3 separate regions of the Homo sapiens genome follow, and regions 2 and 3 are each linked to region 1. The links come from fine-mapping of genetic effects on gene expression. A gene starts in region 1. Each other region holds a variant in brackets. All regions are shown on one strand. Distances are from middle to middle.

What was found. PIP is the estimated chance that this variant, and not a neighbour inherited with it, causes the effect.
Region 2: its variant is the best candidate, but not a certain one, in a credible set for the expression of FIGN in tibial artery (GTEx, PIP 0.58).
Region 3: its variant is the best candidate, but not a certain one, in a credible set for the expression of FIGN in cerebellar hemisphere (GTEx, PIP 0.54).

Annotation. Positions count from the first base shown.
Region 1 is chr2:163,731,276-163,739,465 of GRCh38, forward strand. FIGN (fidgetin, microtubule severing factor) reads right to left here and starts at 4,733. Exons shown (of 3, transcript NM_018086.4): 1 at 4,563-4,733; 2 at 3,628-3,797. The coding sequence starts at 3,652. LOC107985957 (a long non-coding RNA gene) reads right to left here and starts at 2,666. Exons shown (of 2, transcript XR_001739759.2): 1 at 1-2,666. RefSeq lists enhancers at 5,340-5,856, 5,857-6,372.
Region 2 is chr2:163,684,171-163,692,360 of GRCh38, forward strand. All of the region lies in intron 2 of FIGN (fidgetin, microtubule severing factor), which reads right to left. It overlaps LOC107985957 (a long non-coding RNA gene), which reads right to left. Exons shown (of 2, transcript XR_001739759.2): 2 at 1-8,190. Among named protein-coding and RNA genes, the nearest start is that of FIGN, 48 kb to the right of the region's middle. The variant A/T (reference allele first, on the strand shown) is at 4,080.
Region 3 is chr2:164,006,161-164,014,350 of GRCh38, forward strand. No RefSeq gene overlaps it. Among named protein-coding and RNA genes, the nearest start is that of FIGN, 270 kb to the left of the region's middle. The variant T/C (reference allele first, on the strand shown) is at 4,993.

The sequences.
Region 1 (8,190 bases):
TAATTAACCTATAATGAAATTACCCATTTATCTTTTCAGGTGGTTTATATCTTAAACTATCTTAGAAATGCAAAGTAATAATACAGATGGTCTCTATAGATTCTTGGAAATACTACCTATTTTCTTCTCTCTGGTTACACTCTTATATTATCATCTAAAAGTAATTAATGAAATTTCTGCACTCTTGTATATCTATCAGAAGTAACTACCTACAAAAAGGTTTTCAAAGTTCCTGCCTAACATGAATAAAAACAAAAACAAAAAATATTTTCTATTTATGGGAAGGAAAAAAATATCAGCCCTGGAAACTCAGCTACAGGAGTCTTAAATATAACTAAAGAATAAAACCCCCTATTTTCACTCAGAAGATATCAGATACTGTTTTAAGAATCTTACTGATGAAATACAGCCAGGAGAAAGAAAAATACTCTATTTTCAGAAAAAAAAAAAAGATGTTTCTTGAAATAATTCCAAAGAGACCCTATAAACTGTGTTTTTAGGAGAAGAGAAAAGCAAATCAACTCACACATACAGCTTCCAAACAGAAGTCTTACCCTCTTCCAGGAAAACAACAATGAGACTTTATTACCCTGCTATGATTCTTTCATTTCAGACATGATTAATTAGCAAGTATTACACTTCTCAAAACTCCCACCCTACTCTTCCCTGCTTATTTGATGATAGACCCACATGAAATAACAAGTTGCCTCCAGCAGTGTAAGACAAGTATCCAAAAACTCTATTTTAAAGAAGAAACACTTCTTTCCTATCTTTGCCTCCCAAAATGAAGCAGGCTGCTTCTAACTGCTTTCACAATTTTGTTTCAACTTGGTCATTTTCCTAACAATACCTTTTCAATTTTAAATAATGCATACAACATATTCATTATTCAAGAACACATAGCATGTTTAATCTGATACCTCTATTTTTAAGCTGAAATTCCAAAGGACTTATGTGTCCATGCAGTTTATATTGATAACCATAAACATGCACAATTAATAAACAATAGAGACGATGTGTACAAGCATGTTTTGGGACATGGTTTTTGTAGAAATAATGTTTCTTTTCCAAATAAAAGCTAATTTGTCACAAATATAATGAAGATAAGAAACAAGCATGAAGGAGTAAAAGAGAGGAAGAACAGAAGAGGATAACTAAAATTTGAATGAAAAACTCTTGACTCTCTACATATTCTTCCAAAATAATCTTTCAAAATAATTTTCCTTTTGAACAATCTGTGTTCAAAACGTCCATTCCATGTGCACCAAGAAGCCAGCCATCACTAAATATATTATAAATGTATATTCTAACAATCATCAATTTATAAAGTCTGGGATTTCCCCTTCAACCTTTCAACTGTTACGTCCAGAAAACTTCACACATAGTGAAATCCTAATAAATAGATCTTGTTGGTTCCAGGAAACATTTTTAAAAATCTATACTGGTCAAAATATCCTTGCTTTTTTTCTGTTGTATTAAATTTAGGATCAAAAACATCAAAGCAGCTTCCACCTCGGACCTAACTTTTAGAGGATCAATGTGACAAGGCAGTCCCTGATAGATGTTTCTCTTGATAAACGACTTGTTCAAAAGAGACATTGTAGCTTTCATTTCCTGACCACAACACACTTTTAATTTGCAACAGCAGAGCTGCCAGAGTGTGAGCACTTGCCCACTTTCTAGTCTTTTAGGTTTGTAGCTCTGGTTCCTTTAGGCCGCACATTTGAGACAAACAAAATCTAAAAATAATCAGAGTAAAGAATTAGAAAACAAGAGCCAGTAACGCCACTTTATACATATACACAAGTGTCTACTTTATATATATGTATGTAAACTTTCACCCCTAGAATTCTAATATATGATAACAAGGCTCCTAAGTTAACATCATTTGCACATCGGACATTTAAACATAGGGAAATGAATTATGTGACTATTATTTAATAGTAAGCAGAGACTTAAGAGGGGGGCAATTTACACACTCAAATCTGCTGTTAAATGTCATGAATTATATAATTGCCTATGCCAGTATGTTTTTCATGAATTATTGCAATGATTATTATTAGTACTACCTAGAAATCACATTTAAGTATCAATACGGTGAACAGTCAAACCATCCAATTTCTGCTCTCAGCACATTGTCCGAGCTCCGATTTAAAATTTATAAATGTAATATCCTCCTCATCACAGGCAGCAGCCCAATCTGCTCTGAATATATATTACAGCTTTAACATCACAGAGGGAAATCGCCCATCTGGCAATCCCATTCGCTCCAACAGCTCCGGGGGAAAAAAAGCTGTGCTCTCTCCTCCTTAAAACATTTCTCAGGGCAAATTATGTGCATCTAAAATAAACAGTCTTCTTATTGATCGCTTCAAAGTCAACAAGTTCCAAATGCAAAATTCAATCAAATCTTTCCTATCGTGTAAGTGTGGTGTGTATTTAGCTCAATAGTCACCAGAGTCCAACCAGACGTGTATGTCGCGCAACGGGTCTTGTAGTTCCTCTCTTCGTATTCACATTTGTGTTAGGAGAGAGCAGTGACCACGGCCACACTACAGACCCCTGGCAGCTTTGCCCCACTGTTATTTCTTTTTTCATATTCTCTCTTTCCTTCTTTCTCTCTTTTCAGGAGGAATTAACGGTCATGGGGTAAACATAGCAACAACCAAAAAAAAAAAAAAAAAAAACAGTCTAAAGTGGACATATCCTTTGGTTATGCAAAATACTTTAACATCTTTTTGTTGTTGTTGTTCCCTCTGTCTTAATTGAATATTACAAAGTGTACACAGGGCACTGCCACAAGAGCTATTGAAAATCCCCTCTCACTCCATTTAACTGACTTTTTTTTTTTGTAAAGAAAGGAAAGAGCGATTTCAAACGAAGTCAATTTCAGTGCCTGATTATTTAATTCTGTCACAAGTTAAAAGTAAAAAGCGCTGACAGGCAGACGAGTGAATGGAAAGGGGGAAGAAAAACCTATCCCTACTCTTTAAAAGACATCAAGGACTTTGGACAATCAAAATATAATTTTTATTTTCATGTAAAAGACACCTCTTCACTTACCCGCCCCCCCCAAAAAAAAACCACACTCAGAAGAACTGATTACTCCACAAAGTGCAAACATCAAGAGCAGATAGTCAAACTGCATTAATAGATTGAGAAAAATAAAATTTTCATCCAGTCCTGTTCCTGTGTGTGTACATATATATAGATACACTTTCATTAGTTAGTAATCTTTCCCAACACTCCTGCCCTCTCCCCTTTGCCCAGCCTCCCTCCTTCAAAAAAAAAAAAAAAAAAAACCCACACTGAGTTTAACTAATTTACATACTATTTGACTTCAGCAGTTATATATATATAGTGCATTACTAGTAACGTGCAACTTCTGGATGACAGCTAAAACCGATAAAAGTGGATTCAAGTAATATATTAATCAAAACTGCAATATACAAACAAGTGATAGCAAAAGAAAAAAAAGCATGGTGACATTAAACATATATTTTTTAAAAAAAGGAATTCTATATCATGAGCAACTGCTTGCCAGGCAGTCTTCAATGGTTTTATCATGCTATTTCATTTGTCTTTCCTATTTAGATGCAAAGGAAGTAAATTCCAAAACTGACATACCATAAACACTGGTGCTACTGATCATTTCTTGCTGGCAGCACAAAAAGCTGAATTGGATTTCTCACAAGCAGGAATTCCAAAGGTTGCTTTTCATTAAAGCCACTTTTCCTCTCAGCTATCAAATGTCACTGCCTTGAAACGTGGGCCCTTTCGTCAGGTATTCATTTAACCTACATGCATATAATTAAGGGGGAAAGCAACATCAACAAAAAGGGGATCTCAGATCACAGGAGAAGAAAGAAAGGAAAAAAAGCACATGACCAGGAATGCAAGTCCATGTCAATTTCACTCACTCCCATTGAAACTAACAAGAGCTCCGGGGAGGACGGTAATAGGATCAGTGGATTGTATATACCATTAAATTATACATCTTTCTCTCCCGTTCCTTGCCAACAATACGCCCACCACGCTGTACCCCCTCCTAGATGATGTGCTTACATTTTTCTGCAACCGATCTTCTGACATTTTCTCGTTCCCCCAGCCACGAGATTGTAATTTAACCTCAACTTTTTGTGTGTGTGCAAGATTCTTATTTACACTTCTTATTTACTTAGAAGTTAGTTCCCGAAGAAAGTCTAGCCCCACCCTATGGCTCCGCTTTCTTATTTTTTTATTTTTGAAGTAAAAAGATAGTAATAAGTAAGCCCAATATAGCGAAAAGCGAGATTCTTGCAATCGCGAACTCTTAATCCCATACTATTGTTACAATGATTAAGCAGCAAAAATATGCATTATAATGTTTCAGGGCTACTTTGAACAGAGAAATTAGACAGCAGGTTGGCGTACAGAATAGAAACGAGTGGAAATTGAATTTAATGTTTACGGCACAACTGAAGATCTCTTTTAATTACAGGTCTTGGATGTATTTATATTCTTTAAAAATAAAACAAAAACAAATTTAAACAGATGGTAGAAAACTACGAAGCTCCTCTTACCTGAACGCGCGGAGAGAGAACCCGATAGGTTAGCGTAGCATCGATCCGATGTGTTTGCTGATGAATGGAAGCTAGGGTTAAGTGAAGGTGCCTATGATTTGAAATCATTCCAAGTTTTTGAAGGGAAGACGGACTGCAGCCTCTGCCATGTTGGAATTTCAAACCCAAAACAGCTGCTTGGAAGGAGCCAGCATGCCAGAGGCTGGGCGCAGGCGCAGAGCGCCGCAGAGCCAAATTCAAATCACTTTCACACTAAGAGCCAAAGATCAGTTTTCAAAGGAGAGAGGGAGAAAGAGACGGAGGCTGCCGTGAGGGAGAGAAGACGGGAGGCAGTGGCGAGAGGCGGGCAGTGGAGAGAGACGGGCAGCGGGAGGACCAGGAGGGAGAGGGAGAGGCGCACGGAGCCCGCGGAGCTGGAGGGGGAGAAAGGGAGGCGGGAGGCGAGCCGGCGAGCGAGCTAGAGACGCGCCAGAGATTCATGGGCAGGGAGGGCTCAATGGCCGCGCCGCGCCGGCCGGCCGGCCGCTCGGGTCATGTTACACGGCCGGGGCCGCGGCGGCCGCCCAGCCTCGCCGATGCGCTCACGCGGCCCGGAGGGGGCCCCGAGGTCATGATTACGCGCGCGGGGACTCGCAGCTCTCCCTGCACGCACTCTCTGGCGGCCCAGCCTGGGGAAAGGGGAGCAGCGCCGTAGGGGGAAGGGGGCTTTCTTTCCCACGCGTGACCAGCCGGCCCCTGCGCTCCCCGGCCTGCGTTGGAGGGCCCGGGACAGAGCCGCGCTGCTCCCCGGCCCGCGGGCTCTTCCCTGCCGGTTCCCGGCCCTCTCGACAGCTGCGGCCCGTCCGCCCTTCCCCACCCCCTCTGCGCACGGGACGGGATCTGGTCTCGAGAGCCTGGACCTCACCGGCACCCTCCCCGGGGCCCCCAGCACCAGCCAGAAAACGACTTGATCTGCTTAGAAGAGGCAACTTCGGGGAGAAAATTCGCGTTCGCCCAGTTCCCCTCCCCCGCCTCCCTGTGAATAAATAAAATCCTAAGTGTCTAGGTGTGCGGTCCCCTCTCGCGCTCCCTGGCTCCCCTCCCTACCTCCCCCAGGCGGCTCGGGCTGGAGAAAGCAGCGCCCGGGGGGCCCTGGTGTCGGCGGCTGGTGCGCAGGCATAGACGTTAGGCTTCTGCCTTCCCAACCCCCCTCTATGGAGTAATCTGGGGACCCAGGAGTGGGAAGAGAGTAGGGGCTTTGTGGTGCTGGGAGCCGAGGAAGAATGAAATGTGCAGTTGAGTGTGTTGCTCGCATCCCAGGGAGCAATGCAGTGCTGATTGTCTGTTGCTGAGATAGCCTTTTGTTCGGAACATAAGGTTTAAGAAACACACACACGTTTTCTGGGGTCTCTTGTTAGATGTAAATGTGCGGCATCCAGACGCTTACTATGCAGTGTAAGCTCAGTTGGTTTACTAATCACCCCGCCCCACCCGCAAACAATCAGGATCATTTGAATGGGAACCTCATTCAGACTTCTAGGCTGAGAGTATTGCCTTCAACCTATTTCATTCTAGACTAGCCAACCATCCAACTGAGATAATAAAGCAAACAATAACATTTGATCATGATGTCTACGAGATAATGTGCCCGGCAAAGTTCTTTAGGAATTGTAATGAGAAAGAGAGTGAATTGGGTCATAATTTCTCTTCGTTTTCATTAAATATGACTTTAATAGATAAATGGTGAGTTTATACTTTGGCCTGGTAGACATCCAGTCTTCTATATTTCAACGAAGCTAAGAATGAAAGAGGCAAATTATATATTCCACCAGGAGCCCATCAAGCTGAAAATGTTACCTTTGAAGGTTGGAACCGAAAATGCACTTGCTGAGGACTGACCCTCCTCATAAGGGTGTTCACATTTCCCCCAGCTTCTCTGTTGTAGATTTGATAGCCTAAATTGCAGCTCTCCAGATGCTGAAATGCAGCTCTTTAAAAATGCCAAATATATACTTTGAAATTAATTCCATTCACCTTTTATGATGTTCTTACCTTTGAATGGATGCCTTTAGCTAACACACTGAGAAATAAAAATTATTTCAGTTAAATCTAGGCAGATGACAGAATTTAAAAGACAAAAAAAGAGTGATTCGAGATCCTAAGAAATATTTCTAAGCAATGAGATTTCTATTTGGAATGGATTTGACCTTTCTGTGAATTTTTTAAAAAAGGAGTCTTCGAAATAAAACAGAAGAACTTTATTCTGATGTAACAGAGAACACTGAAACCTCTTTAGTTATATTTTACAAGATGGCTTTGAAAATGATATTACGAAAAGTTGTTCATTGGATTTTACCACAAAGAAATAAGTGTAGGGAAATATCTGTGGGTCACTGTTGGATTGAGTACAGATGAATTAAAAAAAAAAAAAAAAACTGTGAAGCGCTCATAATCGCAGTTATTGCCCATTTGGGGAATGACGACCAAAAGTCCTCTGGACACACAGCAGATGCTCTGTGCAATTCGGGCAAAACTGCTCTGTTCTTGTTTGTTAAAAAAGTTCAGAGCTCATCAACCTTTAACATTAAATCCTAGCGTTGAATTTACAGTTCCTTGTGTAAATTCAAATAGTGAATAAAATATATAATACAGTGCCCACTGAATATAAAAACAATGTATTTTGATGACAGACTTAAAGCCATTCATCTGTAATATCTAAAATAAAACAACCCCTGCTCTTTAAAAAGAGGAGGAAAAAGTGTGGTCAGCAAGAGTTTATTAATAGATAATAACTGTACCTTTCCAATTCCCTTATAGATTCATTTGAAATACACATTATAAAAAAATCATTCAACATGCAAATAAATATAATTAACTTTGGAATCAAATAATTGGAAAACTGTTCAAAAGAGCACTGGATAGAGGTACAGAGTTTCTAAATTGTTCAAAATTACATATACTCTGGGAATAAAAGACACTTACATAATAGAATATACATTATGGGACTTCCATAATAATAAGATACACAGGAGAGTTCGTCATTGCACTATTTCTCCCTTTTTTTTTAAGTATAGGTAAAAGTTGCTTTTCTCCAATTATTTTAAGCAAAGGAAAATAAAACTTGACTTTCTTTTCCACAGAGATTCATGGCATTGTTTGCGATGTTCAGTTTTTGTTGTTTTAATAAAACTATCTTTAATTATGTGGTATGATTAAAAAGCACTTTAACAGTCATCATATTCTGTATGCATTTATCTTCAAAACTTTTAATCAAAAGAAATGTTTCTGGCTGTAGCTGACATCCATCTCTATAATATCTTTTGAAACTTCTTGATATAACATGAGAATTAAATATTGAGTGTTTAAAGGAAGTTGATTGGCTAGTCAGGGAAACAGTTATTTCAGAAAATAATAAATTTGACTAATTTTTCCCACTCTATTAGCAATATCATTTCTCTTTCTATTTTACTTTTTAAATGCACAGACATTATAATGCATAACATTTTGACTAATATGTGAAATTCTAATACACAGTATACTCAAACTTGTGCTTTTTAAGAAAATCAGAAGAAAAATCAACATAACTCTTCTTCAGGAGTGTGTGTGTGTATGCCTTCCTTTCAAGATAATTCAGAGGGGAATTCTACTT
Region 2 (8,190 bases), 47 kb before region 1:
ACACACACACACACTTTAGAGACTTGTAAACAATATATTATTCAGTCATTCCTATCTTGAAATACTATTTAGTCTCTATAAAGGTACTACAAAAAGTCAAGAGAAGTTCAGCCTTTACTCTGCCTAAACATAGCAAAAGCAAGCTAGATGAAATTTTAAGTCACAGCAGTCCCTAATATTTGCATAGCCTTTTTGCATTTTTAAAATCCTCTACAAATATTATCAAGCTGGATTCTAACAATAGTTCTATTATTTGATCATAACAGATAGTCTAATTTTGTATTCCTGGATGAGGAAATGGAGACCCAGAAGTCAGGTAACACGTCCAAGTCCCAAGGATAGAATTTAACCCATTAGGTCTCAGGTCTTTTCTTCCCTAGCTTGGTTGTCTACATTCTCTTTCAAGCACACAATCTAGTTTTCAGGTACATGTCCCCACTTTAGGCTTTCAGAGGGAGAGGTAGATGTTTATCACTCAAAGTGATCACTTTCTCCTCTATGAACCACAGGGCTTTATCAGTAAAATCTAGTTAAAAACATTCTTTTCTACTTTTATTAGAGCTATGAAAATGCGTATTTTCATTATTGAACTGTCAGTTTCCTTTTTTTCTTCTTCTTTCTGAGACGGAATCTTGCTCTTGTTGCCCAGGCTGGAGTGCACTGGCGTGATCTCGGCTCACTGCAACCTCCGCCTCCCAGGTTCAAGCAATTCTCCTGCCTCAGCCTCCCGAGTAGCTGGGATTAAGGCGGGAGCCACCATGCCTGGCTATTTTTTTTTTTTTTTTTTTGTATTTTTAGTAGAGACAAGGTTTTACCATGTTGGCCAGGCTGGTCTCGAGCTACTGACCTCGTGATTCACCCGCTTCAGCCTCCCAAAGTGCTGGGATTATAGGCGTGAGCTACCGCACCCAGTGAACTGTAACTTTCTTTAAGGTTGGGTCCATGATGACTAGAAGAGTCATATTTCCTATTCCATAAACACCTAACAGTTTCATTTACTTAGCTAGGTATGGGACTATACTCTCTCATTGCTATCTTCTTTTTTACAATTAGACTTTGAATTCAGAATCAGAAATATTTTTCAAATTAATCTGTACTCCTTGTTCTACCCTTTTGTGATGAGTTGGCAACAGCTCTTCAGATAAAGAAAAACTGTGAAAATATCTTCCTTGGGGTCTTTCTTCCTATTTCCAAAACAACTTTCCAAGTTACTTTAATAATCTCTCAGACAGAAGTTTTTCAGATCAATCACTTTTTCTGACATCTTCTAGATAAATACATGTTTGGCCGTGTTCCCCTTAGGGCATAGGCAGTCCAAGACAAAAACCATGACTTCAAAAGTGACATGATCTGTGTAGCATTCAGAGGAACTACTACCTCCCTTGGTAGAGGCTCATGATTTTAGATTAAGGTTATGTTAGCATTCACAGCCACCACAGCTCATCAATCAGAAGGCTGAGCCAGACTTCTTCTAGGTCAATATTAACGATCTTGCAGTATCGTTATCTGAAGTAAGTGGAAGAATACTTTAATTTGTAAATCTAAGCTCATCAAATAGTTTTTCCTAAGACATGCAATACAGTGTTACTGGAGGAATAACTAGGAAGCCAAACCCAGGTGTGCTCGCCAGTAAACTGACTTTCATTATGGATATTGAAAGAGAACTTCACTTTCTCAGCAATGGGTTTCTAGAACTGCATTAAAGACATGTGGCATAAACTACTAAGTGAACATATCATGAAAACATCTGAAGACAACAATAAATTTTTAAAGGCAGATTTATAGAAAAAAACACATGTAAAATCTATCAAAGGCACAAAACTATTTGGGACAGTCATCAAATTTGGACTTCGTCAATTTCGCAGTAAGCCTTATAACAGTTTCTCAATCAGTATATCCAAGGAGATTATTGAAATAGTACAAAAGCAATGACTGAGAAATGGTGTCATAACATTTTTTTAAATAATGAGAATTCTAACAAGTTATCTTTGAAGTTTAGAATAGATTGCTACAATTAGAAAAAGATGGGTATCCATCATCCCACCCTGTCATATTCTGACATAAATAAAAGGAGGATGAATTTTAAATTACCTCTACTCATGACAGTTTTATCCTAGACAAAGTTCTCGCCACAAAACAGAGGGTGAAGGACTTCTAGTAGAGCTATAATTGCCATAATGTTGATTAAATGTACACTTAATGTGGCGAAAAGCTTTTCTGTGGCATGGCAGAGTCTTTCTAGTGCTATTTAAAAACTCTTCAAGTACAATCTTCTAAAAGTGGTACTTTGATGAGCAGTGCAACAACATACCTGAAGTTTCATTGCTATATAAAGCAGAGTTGGGAACGGTAAAGAAGTGAGAAGTGTGGGCGAAACTGCCTTATGTAGATTATCACATTACACATATAGTCCTAGTTAGGAACACACAAGCACACTAGTTTTATTTTATACTTACAATTTGGTTTTGAGACCAAATATTATCAATTTTATTGAATCAATTCTAACAGTATCTCATTTACTAGGCCTGGCTCCCAGTGACATTTAGCTATTTTCCCAAATCATATACCTGTGTTTATGTATGTATGTGTATATATATATATACACATACACACACACACACACACATATATATATATTCTTTTTAAAGTGATAAGTGTTGCCAAAATTAAAGATGATCAGAAGAAAGTGCTATTAGACAGAAAGCACTTTCCAAGCAGGAGGCCAAGTGTGCTTTGAAGGGCAGAAGACGTATGTATTTGTAAAGAGTGTTATTATTTAAAATAATCAGTCATTACTTAATATTAACACATTTTATATTATGATGTATGTGTGAGATTGTGTACACACACACACACACACACACATACATGCACAGCTACATGCTTCCAGAGACATCTCTTTTGGTATTATCAAAATGATAAAGTTCATATCATGATTCTCAGAGGCATTTGGAAGAGTTAGAGGAGAAAAGAAACAGAATGGTATTCAAAGCCATAAAACTGTGTCAGGGGATCACTAACTTCTTCTCCTGTGCCCTCCAAGACCACCCTAGATTTTTCTAGATATAATATTGAAGGAATTGTGTCTAAACTTTTTAAATGGGTACTAGCAGTAGCCAGCAAGACAAACAAAACCTTTCTCCAGAGCAGTGGAGAAGAAATGGTAACAGAAAGCTCAACCACTAGGCTTTGAGTGCTAGTTTAGAGAGCAGAACACACTGTCAATTGACACTTGCCTTTGACAATTTGAACAGAGTCGGGTCACCTGACCTCAGGCCTCATACACAGCTTAGTAAACTGCATTGCTCCCCAAAGAATAATTTATCTTTCCCTTTTCAGAGTACTAGACTTCACTCCAAAATGAGGTAACTGAGACTGGTCAACTGACTTCACATGAAAGAATTACTCTTGAGGAAGACAGTCAAGAATAGAGAATTTAGTCACAGAGGCAATTAGTTTACATTTTATTCTACTTGCCATTTGATTAAGTACACGTTTACCTAGGGAACAAGATGTTTTGCATGGCAACTAACAATGCAAACTTAAATTTTAAAGTATATATTTTTTATCCTAATGCTAATTCATTTTTCATAATCTGTTTTTAGTAAAATTCCTGTTTTTCAAAGTAGAAATAAAAATGAACAGTAACATGCAAAGTTAAATCAAGAATGAATGTCCTCACATATCTTGGGTCACAAAGACCAACATTCCTAAACAAAGGACCACAAAAAGGCATCATCCCTGACAGTTAAGCCAGGAGTTAGTATACAGATGCTTTACAAAGTGAGGTATTAACTCTCAGTAAAAACTGTATTACACGTCAACTATACGTCACAAAATAAATGTTCAGTAAATCTCTAAGGATTTATTTTACTAGTCTCCATTGACAAAACTTGCCAGAAAATACCAAAGCACACAATTCACCTCACAAAGAAGATACATGTATATATACGGCATTCACTCTTTACTGAAGTGAAGAATTTTAAAACTAATGTCTTTATGGCAATGCCTGCTTATAAAAGATACTCTGTGTAAAAGAGCCAGGAGATCCATCACCAGTGAAATGAGTATCCAATGAG[A/T]CCTATCGTGTGCTCAGAATGTGGGAACTCAGGAATTGAAGACATGGTCCTAGGTCTGACAATCACATTATAAAATAGCAAACAAAATGAAGACATAATCTAATTGAGAGCTATATTGAATGTTACAGATAAAGTGGTGGAAAAGATTAGAAGTGAAGGAGATCAGCAGTCTAAAACAGTTACATGTAAGATCATAAAATGATCCTTAATATTGGCACTAGAAAATGACAGACTGGAATGAATAGACAAAGGCAAAAATCGAGAAATGTGTGTACAGTATATCTATGTGAAAGTTAAAAAGAAATCGCTGTTTAGATGGAAGATGAGACCAGGTTATCATAGTTTTAGAAGAGGAGTTTAAACTTCATGCAGTGAATGTTGGGAGCTACAGAAGGCTTGTGAGTAAGAGGGAGACAACATGAACACATTGTTTGTGGACTACCCAGCCCAGATAATTCAAAGTTGGTCGCAAGAGGGAGAACCTAAAGCCAAAGTTAACAACTCTGGATTCCTCTTTTATTCAACAAAATTGGATAGTAAATATCAGATAGTTTTTGGTCATGTTTTCGGTAAAGGACAAGCAGAGTATAACAATTATTTGTAAAGCAAATAGCACATCGGATAATATACAACAATGAGGCTGGGTGCAGTGGCTCATGCCTGTAATCCCACCACTTTGCAAAGCCAAAGCCAGCAGATCCCTTGAGCCCAGGAGTTCAAGACCAGCCAGTTCAAAACCCTATCTCTTGAAAAAATACAAAATTAGCAGGTGTGGTGGCACACACCTGTAGTCCTAGCTAGTTGGTAGGTTGAGGTGGGTGCAACACTTAAGCCTAGGAGATCGAGGCTGCAGTGAGCCATGATTGTACCACTGCACTCCAGCCTGGATGATGGATTGAGACCTTATCTCAAAAACAAAAATGAACACACACACACACACACACACAGAAACACACACAGAGAGAGAGTGAGATTATGAGAGGCTGGAGCAAAATCATAGCTCTGGCATCAAGTCTTTCAGATAACATGTTAGACACAGAGCTCTATACTGCAAGTTTGAAAGTGATGCTCATCTGGTTTCATAGGTACCACATATATTTGTTGATCTATATCACATATATGTCTTGATCCATATGTGGTTTAACTTTCAATGTAAGTTCTCAATATTTTATCTATACCTACTGAAATGCTTGATTGACTATCAGGCATGCCTTAGACAATCAGAAAATAAAATTTTAATTTTAACAAAGTAAATATATGCCTAACAAAGAAAAGGATCAAACAATACCATAAAATGGAAATTATCAACCTTTTATTTAAAAACAGTAGAGAATTTCAATCGAGTAGTGTTCAAGTATTGAGTCAATCTGAATTACACAGAGCCTTGACCAATATTTATTGCTACATGTTTTAGAAGCAATTTCCATTTTGATGGGTTGCTTCAAAAGTGGTATTCTGAAGCAGTTAGGCAACATAAAAATATAGGATCAAGATTATGTCTGTCAGATGAAAAATACAGCATTTATGCAGCATTATATAATCCATTCGCTGGTTTATGAGCCCAAGGTCCCCATGGGAGTGTCGCAAACCCACATAATAGCTACAGGGTTATATTTTGCATTTGAGACTCCAAATGAGCAGCAAATACTCTCTAAAACCACAAGTGTAACTAGAATACTTGTACTTGGTACCATAAAGTAAGTGCAAAATTGTAAATAATTTCAATCTAGCAGCTAAAGATGTCCTTGTTTTGGGTGATGCCAACATTAAAATATGTGCACTTTTCTTCCAGTTATGTCAGTCCCCCTCAATTGTTAAGATACATACAACATAAATCAGATGGTCAAATTGGGCCTATGAAAGAACAGTTACCAATGATTCAATGTCAAGGAAGCCTACTACAGTGTTCCCCAAGGATGAGGCCAGTATTTCTTAAACACTCGAGCTAACTGCCTTCAATAAAGAAAAACACATGATACTTAATTTCAAACAGGACATGACACCAGGGATAGCTGGTGTGGCTAACTCAGGAATGGACATAATTGTAGTTCAAAACAATAGGTTATATCTTCAATATAAATTTAAAAATCAAATAAAGTATCGGTATACATTTATACATTTATGGGGAAATAACACAATGGACTAGCAATCTCCAGCAGCAGAAACAAATGTGTCAAAAAGCCGTAGAGCTGGGTGAGAATCAAAAACTAATGCTGTTTTGGGATAGAACCATTTGTAAAAAGCAATCTAATCTAGATAAATACACACAATATATAAGATGTAATAAAGCAGTTATATAATGCATTGGCATTTAGTATGATTATTAACAATACCAGTCTAGTCTAGGCAACAGTACAGAACACATTTAAAAATATATAAAACAGGATATATGTAAATATTAAAGAAGTCTGAATTATGTAATCTAGAGAAGTAAAAGTTGAAAGGTGGCTCAAGTATATATAAATATATAAAAGATTATTTTATGTGTATTTAATTGTGGCACATTTTAAAGAGATGGAAAAGAATACAGTGTTGCTAAGATAGAGATATACCAAAAATGTAATTTTGTAATTTTAAAGTCATTGGAATTTGTGTGTGTGTGTTGGGGTGGGGGGCATTCTTACCTAACAGGCCTTCTCATGATTTTTTAAACTATAAAACATTTTTTAAACTATAGATTTAGTCCACACCAACACTGCAGATTTTACCAGACAGTATGAGGAACTGACTTCCGACTTAACATTTTTCAATATGCTGTTGGGTAAATTATCAACCCAAATAGTCTTTCAGTCTTTTGCTTAGAGTGAGGATCATGGGACTCAAAAATAAACTTTTTCCCAAAGGAAATGGACCGTTGGCCACTGACCACAGAATTAAGAACACTGTGCACTTTGTTTTTAATATAAGACTAAATTTATCTTTCAAATTGATGGGGTTTCTAGAGGTCACAAACTGACAGCCTATGTACAAAACACAGACTGCACACTGTTTGTAAAATCTTTGATTAGTTGCCTAATTTAAAAAATTGATACAATTACATTAAAATGGGGTATCTGCTGTATCTTGAAAAGAAAATAAAGAAAAGAAAATATGGCAACCCTCTGCCTTTATTTTCACAAGTCAACAATCTGCTGATGCTTCATGGTGACAAACGAGGAACAATCTTGCTACCTGTCCTCCTTCACTCATTTTTAACCAATCTAGTTCCAGGAGGCACCTGAGTTTGCCATCCCTGGTTTATAAGGATGGACATTTTCATACTCTGCTACTTGATGTGACCTATTTTAAACAGTGACTTTAGTATGCCTAGACTATCTTACAACATGTTAATTAATCCAAGAGAAACTAACACCAGTAAGTCAGAGAGTGGCATCCTTCCATGAGTGGTTATGCACTTCAATTCAGCCAGATTTAATTTGGTTAACAAATATTTCATGTTACCTACACTAAAATGGATTAGTGGCAATCAACTTTCTCTTTTCAGGAATTGAGGCAAAAATTAACCCTTCTGAGCATTAAAAACAAACAGAAAGCAGAGTGGAAGTTGTGGAATAAAGAGGAAAATATGTGCTATAACCAGGGCCAGAGGAATTTGCAATTAGAATAAAGAACAAAATGTTCTGTCCAAAGAAAAGACAAATCCAAATCTTTTTAAGTTTCTTCCCAAGGATTCTCTCCAAGAAGTGAAGACCCAGAAGCAAGTTCATCTTTAAAAATTTTAAATGCTCAATCAAATCTATCTTAAACATTTGTTTTGTTATGCCTAGGGAAAAGATTATTTTTCTAACATTACTGTCTTAGCAAACAATGATAAGCTTCACAAAAATAAAATGTTCCATTTTGCTTTATTACTGAAAGCTATGAACAAAATTATTAAAATTAAAATATGAATTGAAATATTTTATAGTCCTAAACTTGTTTAAGTAAAAGGATTTTGTATTGTCATTTATTTGGATAAAATATTATACATAGGAACATGATTCAGTAAGAAGCAGGCATAGGGCCAGTCTTTCTAGAAGCATCCAGGAGATTAACTGGAAGTACCAGTAGGAGGTGTTGGTCCCTTTCATAGTTAAAATTATTTTATAGCTAGGCTCCTAAGTAAGGTGTT
Region 3 (8,190 bases), 270 kb after region 1:
CTAACTCCTCTCATGGCACTGAATCTTAAATTTAGATTATTGTAGGTTAAAATGTGTATTTTGAAAAGTGCTGAATTATGAAATAAAAGTGTTACTTTTATTGACTCTGTGTGGGATAACAAGATTTAATTTAGTTCAAAAATGAGTCAATTATGTAGAGATACAAAATCATGAATATAATGGATAATTTTTATGAACCTTTTAAAGACAATTCATAAAGAATTGAATACCATGATTAAAGTTACCCTACCTATTTTTTTTTACCATTTTGGATAATTGGAAAATGTTAAAAGTAAACTTTTAAAATTTATAATTGTCTAGTTAATGGTATTCATTTTATAATACTTTGAAATAATTAATTAAAGCTTAGATACCTTTATTCCAAAGTTGTGACAACATACCTGAGAAAAATTTCTAAAGTTCCTGTGTGACTCTGAATATTGTAACATTTTTCTGGCTAATTCTTATGTCAGTGCAATACAAAAATAGAGATAGAATACTTTGAAGTTGCATACTATATTAGTTAGAGTAATATCAGACTATGATTAAAAAATTAAATGCATATGTCTCAAACACAGAGAGAATGAGTTCGTTCCAGATCAACTGGCAAAGTGAATGAGTAGGGAGATGTGCTCTAGTCTATGCAGTTATTCAGGGATCCAGGTTGATGAATATTGCCATTTTCTTCATGCACATTGGCATCCAGCTGGCAGAAGGGGGAAAAAAGCCTGGAGGATTTTGAATGGGAAGTTATACGAGGCTGGGCATCTAAGATACACACATCACTGACTCACATTGCATTGGCTAGAATGCAGTTACTGGAGATGTCCAACTACAAAGGAGGCTGGAAAATATGCTCTGTGTGTCCAGAAGAGGAAATGGGTGGTGTTATATTTTTGGTGATCTCTGCCACAGAAAACTGTAGGTTTAGGTCTCAACATTGACAGTTACTTCTTGTGAACTTGAACATATCATTTAACCTTTTTGAGCTTGTTTCCTCTTTTATGAAACAGTAATTTGGCCAGGTGTGGTGGCTCATGCCTTTAATTCCAGCAGTTCGGGAGGCCGAGGGGGGCAGATCACCTGAGGTAAGGAGTTCAAGACCAGCCTGGCCAACATGGCGAAACCTCATCTCTACTAAAAATACAAAAATTAGCCAGGTGTGGTGGTGCCTAACTGTAATCCCAGCTACTCGGGAGGCTAAGACAGGAGAATTGCTTGAACCCGGGAGGCGGAGGTTGCAGTGAGCCAAGATCGTGCCACTGCACTCCAACCCAGGTGACAGGGTGAGACTCCATCTCAAAACAAAAACAAAAAACAGTAATTCATACTTTGTATATTTGTTACAAGAATTAAATGCGATTTGTCTATAGTGTACTTAGCTCTTAGCTCACTATTGGCAATAGGAACTACTCAGTAAACGGTAGCTATTTTCTTTTTTTAAGAAGATACTCAGGCACATTGTTTTAGGTATGATGAGCTCTTAGAACTTGGTGGGTATGACCTAGGATCAGAAACCACTGGACAAAATCTTGAGCAAGGGACAAATTGGAGTAGAGATTTAGATTATTATTACTATTAAGTAATAATGATAGCATTCATTATGTACTAACTTGACAAAGATCTTTTCATAAATTAACTCATTCGATATTCTCAATAAACTTATAATACAAATGCCATTATTATCCTAATTTTTTAGTTGAGAAAACAGAGATTTAGAGAAATTAAATACTTTTTTTTTTTTTTGAGACGGAGTCTTGCTCTGTTGCCCAGGCTGGATGGAGTGCAGTGGTGCGATCCTGGCTCACTGCAACCCCTGACTCCCAGGTTCAAGCGATTCTCCTGCTTTAGCCTGCCTAGTAGCTGGAATTACAGGCGCACTCCACAATACCTGGAAAATTTTTGTATTTTTAGTAGAGACAGGGTTTCATCATGTTGACCAGACTGGTCTCGAACTCCTGACCTCAAGTGATCCACCCACCTCAGCCTCCCAAAATGCTGGGATTATAGGGGGGTTATAGGTGTGAGCCACTGCACTGGCCAGATTTAGAAAGATTAAATAATTTATACAAGTCCACAATCAAATTTGGAAGTAAGATTTAATTCCAGATCCATCTTACTCCAGAGTTCACATCCTAAATAATCCCCCAAAAAGTGAGCACCAGAATCTAGGATGATGGAGATTTATTAAATAAGACTTGAGGATGAAAACGGAAGTGAATTAAAGTCTCAAGAGTGTTCTGAAGGGTTATTGACTTTCTTCAGACAAGCTCAAGAACATGAAAACGCAGTTTTAAAGACGAAGGATTTGTCCCAGAGATCCATCTCACAGGATAAAGATGGGAGACCAACATCAGTAATAGTATCTTTGACCAGTGAAAAATATTGCCTACAGCAAACTGACGTAACTCAGAATGTGAGGATGGATTGGAAAAAAAATACATAAATATTTGTTGATAGTGTCTGAGATTCAGCTTATTACTCCAGAGTGTAAGGATGCCACCTGAGGATACTGCCAGGTCATGCCTAAAGTCTTATCACCCAAACCAAACCAGAAGGGAGCACAATGAACACCCCTGCAGCCACATAGCATCAATGAAAGGATCTGAAATTTGACAAGATTGGAAACACCTTCGGACAGGTGAGTGCTAGAGTAGGGAAAGGGCTTACTAATGGTGAATGGTTCCCATCTGTAGTGTAAGGAGGGACGAGGGAGATTCAGTTTGGGGAATAGGGATTTATCTAGGTTAAGGGGTAGTTATTTCTTTTGGAGCTCAGATTGCGTAAGGGCAGTCTCTGCTTGAGCAGGAAGCAGGCACTGTCCAAAGTGCTTTCTTTGGTCCTCTCCAGTGAAAGTGATCTACCCTGCCTATGAATCTCTAGATACTTGTATGCAGTGCTCTCTCCCTGAATTACACACTCACATATACATTCGGACTTTTCAGGGCATTCAAAAGACACATACAACCATTTTCATTTCTGTATGAATGTGATTCAAACGGAGGAAGGAAATCAGATTTCCAGAGACATTTTGTTACTGGATGAAGGCAGGGGTTGGTTGGGGAATGGAGGGAGAAGGAGAATAAAAGGGAAAGTAGGTAGCATTGGTAAAGCAACTTCTGCCTGCTGGAAGGTGGCATATCTTGGATGAAAATATTCAAGTACTGCACATAATATCACCATATATTTCAGCATTGATAATCATGTGCTCATTTATTTAGCCCCCAAACAGATGTAACCAACATCATCACTTTCTATGAATAATAATTTACATTTTATTTTTAGTAAATAAAAACTTCTGGTTCTATTTTTGAGGCAGAGCCTAAAATTCACACACACACACAAACACACACAATGTTTATATTTTAAAAATGCCATTGCCATTGGCTTCGTTTCCATCTACAATTTTAAATTCAATAATGCATAATATCAACAACAGCAACAGCAATACGGGGAAAGGGTGCTTGCCTTTTGAAGTGGAATAGAAGCTCTGTGGCTAATGGGACCATGCTGTAACTCTCTTGAGCTATACTTGAGCTAGATATATCCCTGTGGAAAGTAGCAATTACCTTCAATCTCCCTGATCTGAAGTAATCCTTGCTACATGCGTCCCTCATTGTGAGTGATGAGGCCCGCTGTTTGCTGAGTCTAAAACCAAATGATCTCTCACAAGCAAAATTTAAACTTGAAATAGGATTCTCTAGCTCCCGATTCTGAGTCTATTTTTTTTCGTGTACTTTATACATTCCCAAATCAGGTTCAGGCTGGCTACAGATGGTGCTGGTGTGTAATGAGAAGGGCTCTGAAGCTGCTCCAGCTCCCAGGGGAGGATTCGGTAATGGAACTAACTATGTATTGTCCACCTTATATACTAGATTTGATTTTGGACTATTTGCCCAACTGTGTTTGTTTATTTCTCAGCACTGGAGGGCTTCCATTAGCTCCAGGCTGATTGAACATAGACTATGGAGTAAGAAGGAACAGAACATTTTTTCCCCCGAATGCTGATGTAATCCCTTTTCTTTTACTGACAACTGAGTAATGTTTGCCATTGGAAACTGTGTTAGAAATGAGCTGATATTTGCAGTCATTAGTGGAAAAGAATTGTTTTGATCCCAGGGAACAAAGTGAGCATTATTTTTTAGATGACAACGTTTCAGAAGTTTGTGCCTAAAACTTGTGTATTCAAGACCCTGAAAGGGAAACTGCTAACATTTTTAAAGCTGAAAATTACCTTGTTTCAGAAAATCAAAAGATTAATATTTAAGACCTCATAAATTTTGCTCATAGAGCATAGCCAAATATTATCATAATGAAAACCAAAACCTCAACTCAGCAAATTAGTCACCAAAGACCACATGTAAATTGACATTTTAGTTTTTTAACTAATGGAATCATTTGTCATATTACTGAAGCAGTTCATTATAAAAATAAATTAAGAATAAATAAATTGCAGTCATAGCAATCATGATGAAATTATTAGCAATCACATTTACCGGCATGAAAGTTTTTTTTTTGCATGCTTCTCATCAGCAGATGTTTTTCAAAATAACTTTGCAAACAACATCAATGTTATATCAAGGTTTATTTTTTAATTACTAAAAGCATAGTGGAAGTAAAAAAGAAAGTTACTAATTAAGAAGGGAAAGAAAATGTTGTCTTTCCCTTTCAAATATACACAAGTTCAACTACACAATTCTAATATCAAAATGAGAAATCTCTGTAGTACCTTAACTAGTACAAAGAAAATTAGAAAGCGGAGACCAGCTCATGCAGTTTCTAAATAAATGAAAAGGAAATTACATTTCTCTGGGTAAATATTTACTTCCTAAAGCGTGCCAACAAAAGCTACTATTTTAGAAATGGGACTTGGTAGTAACTAACTTGTACTTAGTTGATTTAATTGGAAATGTGCTGTTTTTCCTTTTAAGCCTGTGCTTTAATTGTAGAATAAAGAATTTTCAATCTGATGTTCTAATTGCACTTGGGATC[T/C]GGTATCCTGTTTACATATATATCGATCTGTAAGATGGCTTCATATGTATCAGTGTCGGCCATATTAGGAAGAACATCTAACCTATTTTTACTTTGGTGTTCATTAACAGGATATTCTTGTTTCTAGATTTTAAAAATTAAGCTTTATCCTTACTATTCATTTTGTGGATATAAACATTGTGCCTTTGATTTGAAATTTCAGTAAAATTTCAAGTGGAAAAATATAGAAAAATAATTTTAAGTTGTATAAAATGCAATTTAGTACTGACATGCAGTTACTCGCTGAAAGTAACTTCTATCTCTATATAATGTATACACAAAGACATTTCTCCAAATGGCTATTCTTATTTCTACCTAATATTTGGTTTAATTAATTGGTAGAGTGAGATAAGAAAACTTTCCAAGTTGCTTGTGCAGCTAATTTTATATATACATATACATATGCATATACATGAAGTAACAAAAGTTGTAACTATTCTTATTTTTCTTCACAAAAATGAACCCTCCATGATGCTTTAAAAACAGATTAAATTATAACCAGTGTTTATCTGATTATGATTTTTTATTCCTCATTTTACAAACTATTTTGGACCTATCAGACGCAGTCACTGGGATAATATTTGGGATTGACATGATGTGGTTGAAGAGCTATATTCAAGTGAATTTGGAAAAAGAAAGTGCTATTTCCAGATAAAGGAAATTGCTTTTTAAAGTCCAGTGGACTAGCCACCTAAAATGAGGATGGAGAATGGAGAACTGGAAGAAAGGAAAGAAAGGGAGAGGAGGAAGAAGGAAGATATGAGAGAATAAGAGAAGGAGCAGAGGATGGGAGCTTAAAATCTCATAATGGGCTTGGGATTGGCTGTTTAAAATCAAACATACTTCTTGAGTATTCCTTTCACTTAGAAACAGTTACAGCTGCCTCTTCATTTATGTTTTCAAGATTCACTAGAAAACTGCAGCATTCATAAGGAATCTTAATCCCTTCTTAAATTTTGAAATGTTGGATAATAGCTTTGGGGCAATGCTCAGCTGCTTGAAACTCACACAGTTTTCCTACTAGTGTAATATATATATATATATATATATATATATATATGGAAACATGGAAGTAGATAATAAAAGAATAATTTATTTAATACATTTAACTTATAAACAATTTAATATATTTTCAAGTTGTTTTTAAACCAATCATCTAAGAAGAAACGATGTCAAGAAACAAAAACATCATAGAGTACTTTCTCACTTTATGAAGCTTAACGTTAATAGGTTGAAAATTGAAATGTAAATTGATAACACTTTGCCATAATGGGATAATGCAAAAAAAAAAAAAAAAAGAGCTTGGATGTTTTGTGATTATCTCCTTCTAATAAACTTTATAAGAGAGGTGGATTTAAATGCATTCTGAATCACAACATTTTAGAACACAGACCTTGAACAAGATGATTTTTTTGTTTATGAGTTGAATGAAAAATCTGTATTTAAAAGCATTCTCTGATTACTTTTTTTTTCTGTCAGTGGGAATTTTCTGTGTGTGGGTGCATGCGCTCATGTGCGTGCATGTGTACATGTGCACACGAGGCTACATTGGGGACCTCATGCAGTAAGTTACAATGATGGAGCATGACAGTCAGAATAGCACACACTATTAGCTGGACCTCAACTCTATTACAGTGCTATGTTTGGTGACATAGAATCAAGAGACTCAAGGATACAAGGTCAAAGGTAGCAAAACATTACATTAATCTGTTCTCTTCACAGATACCAGTGTATCTCCATGTAAAATACAGCATTTGCTGCTTAATTATGAGAAACAAATGCCTAAGGATATTATTTAACAACAACAACAAAAGAACACAAAATAGTTGTCTCTTAGCTAAAGATTTGTAGATAGCTTTTCCCTAGCTCTTATTGTTTTTCTCTTTTTATGACCTCTACAGTTATTACTGGAATTGCTCATGATACTATAAATTGACTTAGTGGCATTGTATTCATTCATCCCTTGCTTCCTAAGTGCCCACATGAAAATGACATGAAAATAATCAATCTAAAATGAAATTAATAAATATCCTACCTAGGCACGCCTTATATATCACAGATGGACTAGATGACATAATATGCAGAAGCTATTTTCAATTGGTGAGGAGACAGAAAATTGACATCAATTTTCATAACGAACATTGAAAGAAATACAAAATTTAATTGCTGAATATCACTTCAAAGTAAATGATCAAATTTCAAGAGAGTGGGTTTTATTGTGGGATTGTCACACTAACTTCACGTTCTAAAAAGAGAAAAAGAAATTGGTAAAATAACTATCATATTCAGCCACACTACTTAACAAAGATCTTTTTTACTAAATGTGCCACCGATTAATATGCCTAGTAGCAGAATCTGCTAAGTGATCAAATAGTTATTAGGGATATGTATAAATGATATAAAGCTACCATACTTGTAAGGCATAATTAGCTATCACCCACGTTTCTTAATCACACAATTCATAAAATTGTAAAAACTTATTTTTAATATTTTAAATTTTGGATGATTATGAGCTCTAACTTCTGTCTCAACAGACTAGGGAAAGGTATGATATATATTCATATACTAGTATAATAGATGAATTTTGCTTTAAAAGGTGCTCCTGGATCTTTGTACATTCCCTACTGCTATATTCTCACATTCTCTATATGTTCTGTACACACCCCATCAGTAGTTCTAGGAGAACTAATTCAGAAAGTCTACCATTTTGAAATGCTAGAATGAATGTATCCTAAATAGTTCAGCTGGTACTGTACAGTTATTCTATCTGGTACAAATAGGCTTTAGCTAAAGGCACCTAAAATAAATAAATAAATAAAATAATAAAAGAAGAATCAAATCCCTCTGAAATTCTTTCACATGGTCACTGCCTTTAACCTCCCTGCCTCAGTACAAAGTTACTCTGTGTCCTTCACTTCTCTGGTTACGATAGAGCTATTTTCTGAGGAGCGATTCATAACAAAGAATTTTCGTTTGTGAGAGCTGTGCCTAGACTGACGCCATGGGCCTTTCCCCACCCCAAGAGCCTTTTGTTTTGTGCCAAAAGAATTGCTCCATTCATTATCCCCACAGATGCTTGGCCTGAAGGCAGAGAAAGTCAGTAAAAACAACAAGAAGCTGAGTTCTCCACCAGCCTAGGCTATCATTATCTACACAAGA